3 separate regions of the Homo sapiens genome follow, and regions 1 and 2 are each linked to region 3. Evidence: fine-mapped expression QTL. A gene starts in region 3. Each other region holds a variant in brackets. All regions are shown on one strand. Distances are between the middles of the regions. Region 1 has its middle 29 kb from the start of CERS4. Region 2 has its middle 24 kb from the start of CERS4. Region 3 holds the start of CERS4 (ceramide synthase 4).

The links. PIP is the estimated chance that this variant, and not a neighbour inherited with it, causes the effect. A credible set is the group of variants that fine-mapping cannot tell apart.
Region 1: its variant is the best candidate, but not a certain one, in a credible set for the expression of CERS4 in lung (GTEx, PIP 0.82).
Region 2: its variant is the best candidate, but not a certain one, in a credible set for the expression of CERS4 in nasal epithelium (TOPMed, PIP 0.50).

Annotation. Positions count from the first base shown.
Region 1 is chr19:8,178,466-8,182,672 of GRCh38, reverse strand. No RefSeq gene overlaps it. Among named protein-coding and RNA genes, the nearest start is that of CERS4, 29 kb to the left of the region's middle. The variant T/C (reference allele first, on the strand shown) is at 2,246.
Region 2 is chr19:8,183,548-8,187,754 of GRCh38, reverse strand. No RefSeq gene overlaps it. Among named protein-coding and RNA genes, the nearest start is that of CERS4, 24 kb to the left of the region's middle. The variant A/G (reference allele first, on the strand shown) is at 2,029.
Region 3 is chr19:8,207,763-8,211,969 of GRCh38, reverse strand. CERS4 (ceramide synthase 4) reads right to left here and starts at 2,600. Exons shown (of 12, transcript NM_024552.3): 1 at 2,476-2,600; 2 at 1,108-1,264. RefSeq lists a silencer at 2,000-2,919.

The sequences.
Region 1 (4,207 bases), 29 kb after region 3:
GCTCGGCTAGTTATATGTTTTTTTAGCCAGGCTCTTTCTCTGTCATCCAGGCTGGAGTGCAGTGGCACCATCACAGTTCACTGCAGTGTCGACCTCTCCAGCTCAAGCCATCCCCCTGCCTCAGCCTCCCTGAGTAGCTGGGATTACAGGTGCACCATCATGCCTGGATAATTAAAAAATTTTTTTAGGCTGGTCACAGTGGCTTACACCTGTAATTCCAGCACTTTGGGAGGCCAAGGTGGGCAGATCACTTGAGGTCAGGAGTTCGAGACCAGCCTGGCAAACTTGTTGGAACCCTGTTTCTACTAAAAATTCAAAAATTAGCCGGGCGTGGTGGCACGCACTTGTAGTCCCAGCTACTCAGGAGGCTGAGGCAGAATTGCTTGAACCTGGGAAGCGGAGGCTGCACTGAGCTAAGATAGCACTACTGCACTCCAGCCTGGGTGACAAGAGTGAGATTCTGTGTTAGAAGAAAAGAAAAGAAAAAATATATTGTAATTTAAATTAATTTATTTAGAGACATGGTCTTTCTCTGTCCCCCAGTCTGACCTGGAACTCCTAGGCTCAAGCAATCCTTCCACTTCAGCCTCCTGAGTATCTGGGACCACAGGCTTGTGCCACTGTGCCCAGCAAGAGCTCATTTATTTTAATTAATGAGTTCCCATTGTCTGAAAGTACCACTGTTTATTTATTCATTCAACTCCCGAAGGGCATCTTGGTTGCTTCCAAGTTTTATGCAATTATGAATAATACTGCTGTAAACATCCGTGTGCAGGTTTTGTTTTGTTTTGTTTTTTTGGTTTTGAGACAGAGTCTCACTCTCTCGCCCAGGCTGGAGTGCAGTGGCGCCATCTCGGCTCACTGCAAGCTCTGCCTCCTGGGTTCACGCCATTCTCCTGCCTCAGCCTCCCGAGTAGCTGGTACTACAGGCACCTGCCACCATGCCCGGCTAATTTTTTGTATATTTAGTAGAGACAGGGTTTCACCGTGTTAGCCAGGATGGTCTCGATCTCCTGACTTCGTGATCCTCCCGCCTCGGCCTCCCAAAGTGCTGGGATTACAGGCATGAGCCACCGCACCCGGCCAGTTTGTTTTTTTTTTTTTGAGTCGGAGTCTCCCTGTGTCGCCCAGGCTGGAGTGCAGTGGTGTGATCTCGGCTCACTGCAACCTCTGCCTCACGGGTTCAAGTGATTCTCCTGCCTCAGCCTCCTGAGTAGCTGGGACTACAGGCACATGCCACCACGCGCAGCTAATTTTTGTATTTTTAGTAGAGACAGGGTTTCACCATATTGGCCAGGCTGGTCTTGAACTCCTGACCTCGTGATCTGCCCGCCTCGGTCTCCCAAAGTGTTGGGATTACGGGTATGAGCCACTGCACCTGGCCCATGTGCGGGTTTTCTTGTAGACATGAGCTTTCAACTCGTTTGGGTAAATATCTAGGAGTGAAATTAATTGGTTATATGGTAAGAGTATGTTTAGTTTTGTAAGAAGCTGTCACACTGTCTTCTAGAGTGGCTGTACTGTTTGGCATTTCTCTCAGCAAAGAGTGAGATTTCCTGTTGCTATATAGGAAACATCTTTTTTTTTTTTTTTTTTTTTTGAGTCAGTCTTGCTTTGTCACCCAGGGTGGAGCACAGCGGTGTAATCTCAGCTTATTGCAACCTCCACTTCCCGGACTCAAGCACTTCTCATGCCTCACCCTCCCGAGTAGCTGGCATTACAGGCATGCACCACCACGCCCGGCTAATTTTTGTATTTTTAGTAGAGATGGGGTTTCACCATGTTGCCCAGGCTGATCTCGAACTCCTGGCCTCAAGTGATCCACCCACCTCGGCTCGCAAAGTGCTGGGATTACAGGCGTGAGCCACCACTCCTGGCCATATAGGCAACAAAATTTTTAATTACGGCAACATCTAGAAAAAAATGTTTTATCCTATATCCTGCATTTTTCTTTTTCTTTCTTTTTTTTTTTTTTTTGAGATGGAGTCTCACTCTGTCACCCAGGCTGGAGTGCAATGGTGCCATCTCGGCTCACTGCAACCTCTGCCTCCCAGGTTCAAGCAATTCTCCTGCCTCAGCCTCCCAAATAGCTGGGATTACAGGCTTGTGCCACCACACTCTGCTAATTTTTTGTATTTTTAGTAGATATGGGGTTTCACCATGTTGGCCAGGCTGGCCTTGGACACCTTGCCTCAAGTGATCCGCCTGCTTTGGCCTCCCAATATCCTGCTTTTTTCTGTAAAAA[T/C]AGTATGAAAATATTTTACATATTGTTAAAGAAAATCTACAAACATTTTTCATAACTGCATATTGGATCTTATCACGTGATTGTACACAGCGTACCGGATACCTCAGGCTTTGCACTAACTGAATATTAAAATAACAATAACAGAAGCATTGTTATATGTAAATATTTGCCTATTTCTCATATTTCTTTCTCATGGATTCCCAGCAGTGGAAATACTGGCTGGAAAAAGGCAAACACGTTATGATTCTTGGTACATGTTGCCAAGAGCTCACCAGAAGCCTGAAATTTATGCTAAAAGCAGCAAGCTGGCCGGGCACAGTCGCTCATGCCTGTAATCCCAGCACTTTGGGAGGCTGAGGAGGGTGGATCACCTGAGGCCAGGAGTTTGAGACCAGCCTGGCCAACATGGCAAAACCCCATCTCTACTAAAAATACAAAAATGAGCTGGGCATGGTGGTGTGTGTCTGTAATCCTGGCTACTAGGGAGGCTGAGACAGGAGAATCACTTGAACCTGGGAGGCAGAGGTTGCAGTGAGCCGAAATTACGCCACTGCACTCCAGCCTGGACGACAAAGCAAAACTCTGTCAAAAAAAAAAAAAAAAAAAAAAAAGCTGCAAGCTGGGGTAAGAGTCTTCAGGAAAAAAAAAAAAAGGTTAGATTAAAATAGACAAAAGATGTCTCATTCTCTTTTCTTTTTTAGAGATAGAGTCTTACTGTGTTGCCCAGGCTGGGGTGCAGTGGAACTATCATAGCTCACAGAAGCCTCAGCCTCCTGGGTTCAAGTGATCCTCCCACCTCAGCTTCCCAAGTAGGTGGGATTACAGGCATGTGCGACCATACCCAGCTAATTTTTATTTTTTGCAGAGATGTGGTCTCACTACATTGCCCAAGTTGGTCTCAAACTCCTGGGCTCAAGTGATTCTCTCACCTTGGCCTCCCAAAGTGCTGGGATTACAGGCATGAGCCACAGCACCTGGCTAAGAATTCCTCTTTAAGTTTTAAAGAGAGACAACTCAGTACATTGCTTGACCATTTTGCCCTCTGCTCTTAAGCTTAGAAAATGCTTTCACATCTCAGAGATTTAAAATCCATTTCCAGCTGGGCACAGTGGCTCACGTCTGTAATCTCAGTACTCTGAGAGGCCAAGGCAGGCAAATCACTAGAGACCAGGAGTTTGAGACCAGCCTGGCCAACATGGTGAAACCCCGTCTCTACTAAAAAGACAAAAATTAGCTGGGCAAGGTGGCACATGCCTGTAATCGCAGCTACTCGGGAGGCTGAGGCAGGAGAATCGCTTGAACCCAGGAGGCAGATGTTGCAGTGAGCCGAGATTGTGCCACTGCACTCCAGCCTGGGCAATAGAGTGACACTCCATCTAACATAATAATAAATAAATCCAAAGAACTTAGTAAACTCCTTTGGTGTCACAAAGCTGTTTGATGACAGAATCAGTATTATAACCTGGAAGTTCAAACTCTGGCTTGGCGCTTTTTCTTATTTTATAGCTAGTCTTTGAGGTAAGATTTGTACTGTTAATTCATTCTGCCTACCCATCCACACACAAAAAATTATGAGGTCAAAAATAAATAATTTGAAATAGAGCAAAAGTAGAGGAAGTAGTGAAGGAAGAAAGGATTCTGGAATTCCATAAAAGTTTTGTGTTTTCTTTGTTTGTTTGTTTTTTGAGATGGAGTCTCACTCTGTCACCTAGGCTGGAGTGCAATGGCGCAATCTCGGCTCACTGCAACCTCTGTCTGCCTCCTGGGTTCAAGCGATTCTCCTGCCTCAGCAACCTGTGTAGCTGGGATTACAGGCGCCTGCCACCATATCTGGCTAATTTTTGTATTTTTAGTACAGACAGGGTTTCACCATGTTGGCCAGGCTGGTCTCAAACTCCTGACCTCAAATGATCCACCCGCCTCGGCCTCCTAAAGTTCTGGGATTCCAGGCGTGAGACACCG
Region 2 (4,207 bases), 24 kb after region 3:
ATCACCTTTTGTGAAAGACTCATTTGTCCTTTGGAGTTTTTGTCCTTTTCATTTTCTTTCTTTCCTTCCTTCCCTCCCTACCCTCCCTTTCTCTCTTCCTCTTCCTTCCTTTCTCTGTCTTCCTTCCTTCCTTCCTTTCTTTCTTTCCTTCTCTTTTTTCTTTTATTTGACAGAGTTTCACTCTTGTTGCCCAGGCTGGAGTGCAGTGGCACAATCTCAGCACACTGCAACCTCCGGCTCCTAGGTTCAAGTGATGCTCCTGCCTCAACCTCCCAAGTAGCTGAGATTACAGGCGCCCACCACCATGCACAGCTAGTTTTTGTGTTTTTAGTAGAGACGGGGTTTCACCATGTTGGCCAGGCTGGTCACAAAGTCCTGACCTCAGAGGATCAACCTTCCTTGGCCTCCCAAAGTGCTGGGATTACAGGCATGAGCCACTGTGCCTGGCCTCCTTTTCATTTATCGCTTTCCTTCCTTCTTTCCTTCCTTCCTTCCTTCCTTCCGTTGCTCTCTCTCTGTCTCTCTCTCTCTGTCACCCAGGCTGGAGTGCAGTGGTGCAATCATAGCTCACTGCAGCCTTGACCTCCTGGGCTCAAGTGATCTTCTTGCCTCAGCCTCTCGAATTGATGGGACTACAGGCACCTGCCACCATGTCCAGCTAATTTTTTGTAGAGACAGGAGTCTTGCTATGTTTTCCAGGCTGGTGTTGAACTCCTGGACTCAAGTGATCCTCCCACCTTGGCCTCCCAAAGTGCTGGGATGACAGTCATGAGTCACCCCACCTGGACCCACATATAACTTTTTTTCTTTTTTCTTTTTTTGAGACAGTCTCACTCTGTCATCCAGGCTGGAGTGCAATGGCACAATCCTGGCTCACTACAACCTCTGCCTCCTGGGTTCAAGGGATTCTCATGCCTCAGCCTCCAGAATAGCTGGACCACAGGTGCGTGCCACCACACCTGGCTAATTTTTGTATTTTTAGTAGAGACAGGGTTTTGCCATGTTGGCCAGGCTGTTCTTGAACTCCTGACCTCAAGTGATCTGCCAGCCTCCACCTCCCAAAGTGCTGGGATGACAGGCCACTGTGCCGAGCCCCTCACATATAACTTTTGACTCCTCAAAACTTAACTACTAGGTTGGGCTCGGTGGTTCACACCTGTCATCCCAGCACTTTGGGAGGCTGAGGCAGGAGGAATGCTTGAGTCCAGGAGTTCAATACCAGCCTGGACAACATAGCAAGACTCCATCTCTAAAAAAACTAAAAATTAGCTGGCCATGGTGGTGCATACCTGTGGTCCCAGCTACTCAAGAGCCTGAGGTGGGAAGATCACCTGAGCCCAGGAAGTCGAGGCTGCAGTCAGCCATGTTTACACCACTGCACTCCAGCCTAAGTGACGGGATAAAACCCCATCTCTAACAAAACAAAAACAAAAACAAAAACAAAAACAAAAAAGGCTGGGCGCAGTGGCTCACACCTGTAATCCCTAGCACTTTGGGAGGCCGAGGCGGGCAGATCACCTGAAGCCGGGAGTTGGAGACCAGCCTGACCAACATGGAGAAACCCTATCTCTACTAAAAATACAAAATTAGCCAGGCGTGGTGGCGCATGCCTGTAATACCAGCAACTTGGGAGGCCAAGGCAGGAGAATCACTTGAACCCAGGTGGTGGAGGTTGCAGTGAGCCAAGATCGCGCCATTGCACTCCAGCCTGGGCAGCAAGAACAAAACTCTGCCTCAAAAAAAAAAAAAAAAAAAAAAAAGAAAAGAAAAAAAGAAACTATCAGAACGTCCATCAATGAGGGAGTAGAGAAATGAAAGGAGAACGAAATGTAATGGTAAGGTAATGGAATATTAAACAGGAGTGAAAAGGAATAAGTAACTCTCCCTGTCTGTGTGTCTCTCTTTCTCTCTCTTGCCTTGCTCTCACTCTCACTCTCTCCAGCTCTACTCTATGTCAATATAAATGTATCTTAATGTGGTGCTGTTTCAAAAAGAAATTCAAGTTGTGCAATGTTAGTTTAGTGTGAT[A/G]CTGTTTATATAAATTTGAAACATAATAGCACTCTGGGTTGCTTATGGATACAATTCCACTTAAAAACAGATACAGATTAAGGAAGTAATGGCCTTTTTTTTTTTTTTTCCCCTGGGTACTTGTAGGTTTCAAATGTGTCTCCCTGCAGGGACCAAAGAGAGCAGGTCACTATAGGTCAGTGGCCAGGGGAGTCCAGGGGTCAGAGTGGGATGTGACTGAATGATCAGTATAGCCAAGGGATCAGTATGACTGAGGTAGCCAGAGAGACCACGTAGAAGGTAGACTTTTTATTTTTCTTTTGAGACAAGGTCCCACTCTGTTGCCCAGGCTGGAGTGTAGTGGCATGATCATAGCTCACTGCAGCCTCAATTTCCCAGGCTCAAGCCAGCTTCCCACCTCAGCCTTCCAAGTAGCTGGGACTACAGGTGTGCGCCACCATGCCTGGCGAATTTTTCTTTTCTTCCTTTTTAGAGAGAGTTTCCTGCTATGTTGCCCAGGCTGCAGGCTGGTCTCAAACTCCTGGGCTCCCAAAATGTTGGGATTACAGGCGTGAGCCATTGTGGCTGGTGGAAGGTAGCTTTTTTTCTTTTCTTTTCTTTTGCCAGAATCTCACTTTGTCTCCAAGGCTAGAGTGCAGTGGCATGAGCTCAGCTTACTGCAACCTCCGCCTCCCAGGTTCAAGCGATTCTTTTGCCTCAGCCTCCTGAGTAGCTGGAATTACAGGCATGGGCCACCGTATCCAGCTAATTTTTGTATTTTTAGTAGAGATGGGGTTTCACCTTGTTGGCCAGGCTGGTCTTGAACTCCTGACCTCAGGTGATCCTCTTGCCTCGTCCTCCCAAAGTGCTGGGATTACAGGCGTGAGCCACTGCCCAGGGCCGGAAGTTAGCTTTGATGCACCCATTTGTCCTGGAGCCCCAGGAACAAGGTGTGCTCTACCAGAAAGAGTGCAGATGGGATGTGGATTCTGGAAATCATATGTAGGATTTGCAACCTCGTGCATGGTTCTGAGTATCTGTAGCTTGCAGCAGGTCTAGATATGCCAACCCTTGATTCAGAGCTCAAAAGTCATCAGGGTCTTATGGGCCAGCTGAGGACAGCCAGGGGTCAGGCACCAGGATTTTCTTTTTTTTTTTTGCATTAAATCAATTTTTTAGGCTGGATGCAGCACCTCATACCTGTAATCCCAGCACTTTGGGAGGCCGAGGCGGCATTGCTTGAACCTAGGAGTTGGAGTCCAGCCTGGGCAATGTAGTGAGACCCTATCTATAAAAAAAAAAATTAAAATCTGGCTGGGCGCTGTGGCTCATGCCTGTAACGCCAGCACTTTGAGAGGCCGAGTCCAGCGGATCACATAAGGTCAGGATTTCAAGAGCAGCCCGGCCAACGTGGGGAAACCCCATCTCTATCAAAAATACAAAAATGACCTAGGTATGGTGGCGCATGCCTGTAATACCAGCTACTTGGGAGGCTGAGGCATAAGAATCACTTGAATCTGGGAGGCAGAGGTTGCAGTGAGCTGAGATCACACTACTGCACTCCAGCCTGGGCGACAGAGCAAGACTGTCTCAAAAAAAAAAAAAAAAAAAAAAAAAGAAAAAAAAAAAAAGAAAAGAAAAAGAAAAAGAAAAAGAAAAAAAAAAAGAAAAAAAAAATGCTGGATGGGGTGGCTCATGCCTGTAATCCCAGAACTTTGCGAGGCTGATGCAGGTGGATCACCTGAGGTCAGGAGTTTGAGACCAGCCTGGCCAATGTGGTGAAACCCCGTCTCTATTAAAAATACAAAAATTAGCCAGGCATGGTGGCGCACACCTGTGGTTCCAGGTCCTCGGGGGGCTGAGGCAGGAGAATTGCTTGAACCCAGGGGATGGAGGTTGCAGTGAGCCGAGATCCACTGCACTCCAGCCTGGGTGACAGAGCGAGACTCTGTCTCAAATAAAAAAAAAGAAAGAAAGAAAGAAAGAAAAAGAACAACTTCATCACCCCGTAAAATTCCCTTACACTGCCCGTTAGGAGTCACATCCTTCCTTCCTTCTCCTTGACAACCACTGATCGGCTCTCTGTCGCCATAATTTAGCCTTTCCGGGACTGTTGTATAAATGGAATCAGTCACACACTGGATAGCCTTGTGAGACTGGGTTCTTTCTTTCTTTTCTTTTTTTTTTTTGGATGGAGTTT
Region 3 (4,207 bases):
TAGGCTGAGTCAGGTGACTCCTCTGGACTCCCCCTGACCCCAGGCATGACTCTGAATTTTTTTTTTTTTTTTTTTTTTTGGAGATAGTCTCACTTTGTTGCCCAGGCTGGAGTGCAGTGGCGCGATCTCGGCTCACTGCAAATTCTGCCTCCCAGGTTCAAGAGATTCTCCTGCCTCAGTCTCCCATGCAGCTGAGATTACAGGTACATGCCACCACGCCCGGCTAATTTTTGTATTTCTAGTAGAGATGGGGTTTCACCATGTTGGCCAGGCTGCTCTCGAACTCCTGACCTTAGGTGATCTGCCTGCCTCAGCTTCCCAAAGTGCTGGGATTACAGGCGTGAGCCACCACGCCCAGCCCCTCCGTGATATTTTAATAGCCTCCAGCTCTGTGATATTCTCGTGATATTTTAATAGCCTGTTTAGCACGTATTCACAACCAGCCAGGCACTGTGTTCAGCTCTTTACCTATAGGTCATGACTGCTATTATCCCATTTTACAGGTGGAGAAACTGAAGCAGGAAGTGGTGAAGTCAGTAGCCCGGAGGCCCTCAACTCAAAGTGGCAGGACAGGGCTGGGGGGTGGTCAGGCTCAAGCCCAGCCAGTCGGAAAGGGAGAAGCTTGTGGTGCTCAGAGAAGGGGACAGGGCAGCGAGCTCCCAAGGCACCTGCCTTTCTGTGCCATCCCACGGGTGGGAGGAGGGAACCTGGGCCCACTTCTGCTGCCAACTACAGGCATCCCAGTGGCTCCTGAGCCAAGACATTCTGTGCCACGCACTGGGTCAACCGCTTTATTCAACCTGCAGACAGCCCTGGGTCAGGAGGTGGACACTGTTGTGAATTTCTCAGAGGAGAAATGGAAGCCCATACATCCCCCTGAACTCCCACCGGGCGTTAGAACCCTCTCCGGTTCCTTAGGGGTGTGGCTGCCACCGAGATCTGCCTAGCCTCGGCTTTCATCGATCCATGAACACTCCCAGGCTCAGATACTACTGACCCATTTTACAGATGGGTAAACTGAAGCTCAGAAACCTTTCCCTGGGGGCCCTACAGCCAGTTCAACGACCAAGGCCGCCCCCCACCCCCCACACCCCAGGCTCAAAGTACCTCTGCTGGCAGTGGGTGAGCTGGAAAAACAGGTAAGGAAAGTCCTCAATGCCTCTTCCTCCACGCCTGGCTGGGCCTGCTGGGGCCCAGGTGCACTGAATGAGGCTTCTAATCAGTCCCCCAGCTCCACTTCTGTGTTTATTCACAGCAGCTGCTCCTGGAAGGCAGACCCATTTGAGGCTGGGGGAGGCCGAGGGCTTCAAAGACAATTCCACAGTCCAGGAACCCTATCCCCATATAACAGACCCAGGTCGCCCCAGTGGGGTCACCCTGGCCTCTGCGCTCAGATGCCTGAGACCTTGCCTGAGCTCAGACTGGAGTCGATGGGAGCATTCCCCCATCTGGTAGGTTTTGCAAACCACAACAGCCTCTCCCCCTGCCCACCTTCCTGTGTCCCCCAGAGCAGCTTCTCCTCAAGTCTCCCAACCCAGCAATGAAAGCCTCTTCTATATACTCCTAACTACCCAGGAGAAACATCGGTCCCCCACGCTCCACTTGCAAACAGACAGAATTAGACGATGTTACTCTGCCAAAGCGAATTTTCAGTTCACCCACTTCCTATCACACCTTCCAGCCAGGTCAAGCCAGAAGCCCCCTTCCAAGTATCCCCATCTCTCCTACCCACAGCGGCTACGGGATGTTCTTAAGACACAATCCGATCACGCCATGCACCTGCTGTTCCAAGCCTCCCTGGTCCCCACCGCCCCGAGAACGGGTTCCACACTCTCCTCGCCGCTTCCCAGGCCCCGGCCAACCTCTCTCCACCTCAGACCCTCCCTCTCCGCGTTTCAGCCAGGCTGGCCTCTTTTCTGCTCCGCACACACTCCCGGCTAGGCCCTGGGCCTAAAAAGCCCTCGCTGGCTGGTCCAACCAGGCCAAATGACATTATCCCCGCCTGGGCACCTCCACCTCACCCCGGCCGCCTGATGGGTTAGCTCGGGCTTGGAATGACGTGTTTAAGCGGTTCTCAGAAGCCGTCTACGCGGCCGGGCTGCGGACTCCGAGGCCAGGGCCCCAGCTGCGTCCCCAGCCCTGGCACGTCGGGGAAACGGGGCGCTCCCCCGGCTCACACATCCGGATTCCCCCGCGTCACGAGGCCAGGATCGCCCCTACTCGCTCCAGCCCGTTTCACAGCCGCGTCCTCGGGCACCCGTTGCGCCCCGGCCCTCGTGGGGGAGCGCGGATAGCTCGGGGAGACGGCCATGATGGGAAGCCCCGAGGGGGACAGTCCCCGGCGGGGTGATGGGGGCTGGAGCCCAGCTGCGAGTGGGGGCCGGGCTGGGGCCGCCATGGCCGCGGAGGCGGGGCCGGGGACCGCCGTGAGGGTGGCGTTCGGGGCGGTGTTCGCGGCGCGGGGTGCTCGCTTACCTGGGGGTGCAGGCGGCCGGGCGCACCGAGGGCCGGCGGCGGGGCTGGGGACGGCGCGCCTAGCGGGCTACCCGGAGCAGCTGCAGACACGCGCCGCCCGCCCCAGGCAGCCGGACTCTGCTCCTGGCCGGGCCTCGGCCCCCAGCAGGGGAAAAAAGGCTTGAGTGGGGGGAGCCCGGGGCGGGGCCGTGGGGGCGGGGCCTGGGCGGGGCACGCGCCCCGGAACGGTGGGGCCTGGCGCGGGGCTGGGGCCCTGGAGAGGCGGGGCCTGGCGCGGGGCGGGGGACTTGGAGGGGCAGGGCCTGGAGCGGGCGCCGGGTCCTCCAGGCGCTTGCCCCCCTCGACGCAACTAGGCCTCTCCCTGGCCCCCGACCCCGCACCCGCACCCCATCCCCGCCCCCGTCCCCGCCCCCCCATTCTCGCCCCCGCCCCCGTTCCCGCTCCGCCCATCTCTGCCCCGCGGCGCGCCTGGCCCGGGTCCAGCCTAGCGTTTCTAGTCTGCGCCTTATCTCTCCCCTTTGAACCCAGTATTGTCCGCTGCGCGCTCCGTCCGGCCCCGGCTTCACCCCTGTTCGCTGTCTGTCTCCCCGGCCCCCTCCCAGGTCCCCTCTTCTGCCCGAGATGCTCTGGCTCTGCTCATCTGTCCACACCCCCACACTCCCGGGGCGCCCTGAGCCTCTGGGGCGCGCAGTTGGATGGTGCACAGGGGAGGCCCAGATTTCTCCAGGCCTCAGCGGCCACCCTGGGTACCCCGAGTCTGGGGCCCTGTTGGAGGGCCAGTCCAGGGGTTCGCCCGAGGCGCGCGCGGGGGCCAACCGAGGCGGTGAGGGCACCGGGCAAAGGCTGCGATTTGGTGGGGTGCAGGGGTCAGGCGACAGAGCTGGGGAGATAAGATGGGAGATAGGCCGGGTGGGTGGTGGCGCAGCCCTGGTTTTGGCTGAGGGCAGCAGCAGTGGGGGCTGGGTCCCCCGCTTGCCTGGTAGAACCGAAAATGACCCAGTCTCAGCAGCGCGCAGGGGCAGGGAGCCTGGGCGATCCCTGAACAGAGGACAGCCCCAGGGGTTTTCATAGTCGCTGGCCCACCGCATGTACTCTGGGCAAGTGGCTTCGCCTTTGGACAATAAGCCTCTGTAAAATGGGGATAATAAACCTTTCTCTGACTCAGCTCAGCAGACCCAAGACCCATGGGGTGAAGTTGGGGCCTCCCTGCCACAGGGCCCTAGGCAAGCTGAGATTTGATTTCCTCACACAGACAGGGGCGCGGGGGGCGGGGCGGTCAGGGAGGCAGGAGACCTCTGTTGCAAGTGTGGAAGAACCTGTCCCTCCAAGTTCAGACTCCTGGCGTTTGCACTTGGCCTTCCCTCTGCTACACTGTTTCTCTTTTCTTTTTTCTTTTTCTTTTTTTTTTTTTGAGACGGAGTCTTGCATTGTGGCCCGGGCTGGACTGCAATGGCATGATCTCGGCTCACTGCAACTTCTGCATCCTGGTTTCATTCGATTCTCCTGCCTCAGCCTCCCGAGTAGCTAGGATTACAGGCGCCCACAACACCCGGCTAATTTATATATATATATATTTTTTTTTTTGGAGAGACGGGGGTTTCACAATGTTGGCCAGACTGATCTCAAACTCCTGACCTCGTGATCCACCAGCCTTGGCTTCCCAAAGTGCTGGGATTACAGGCGTGAGCCAGCATGCCCGACCTTCTCTTTTCTTTTTTTAAAAAAATCTGTT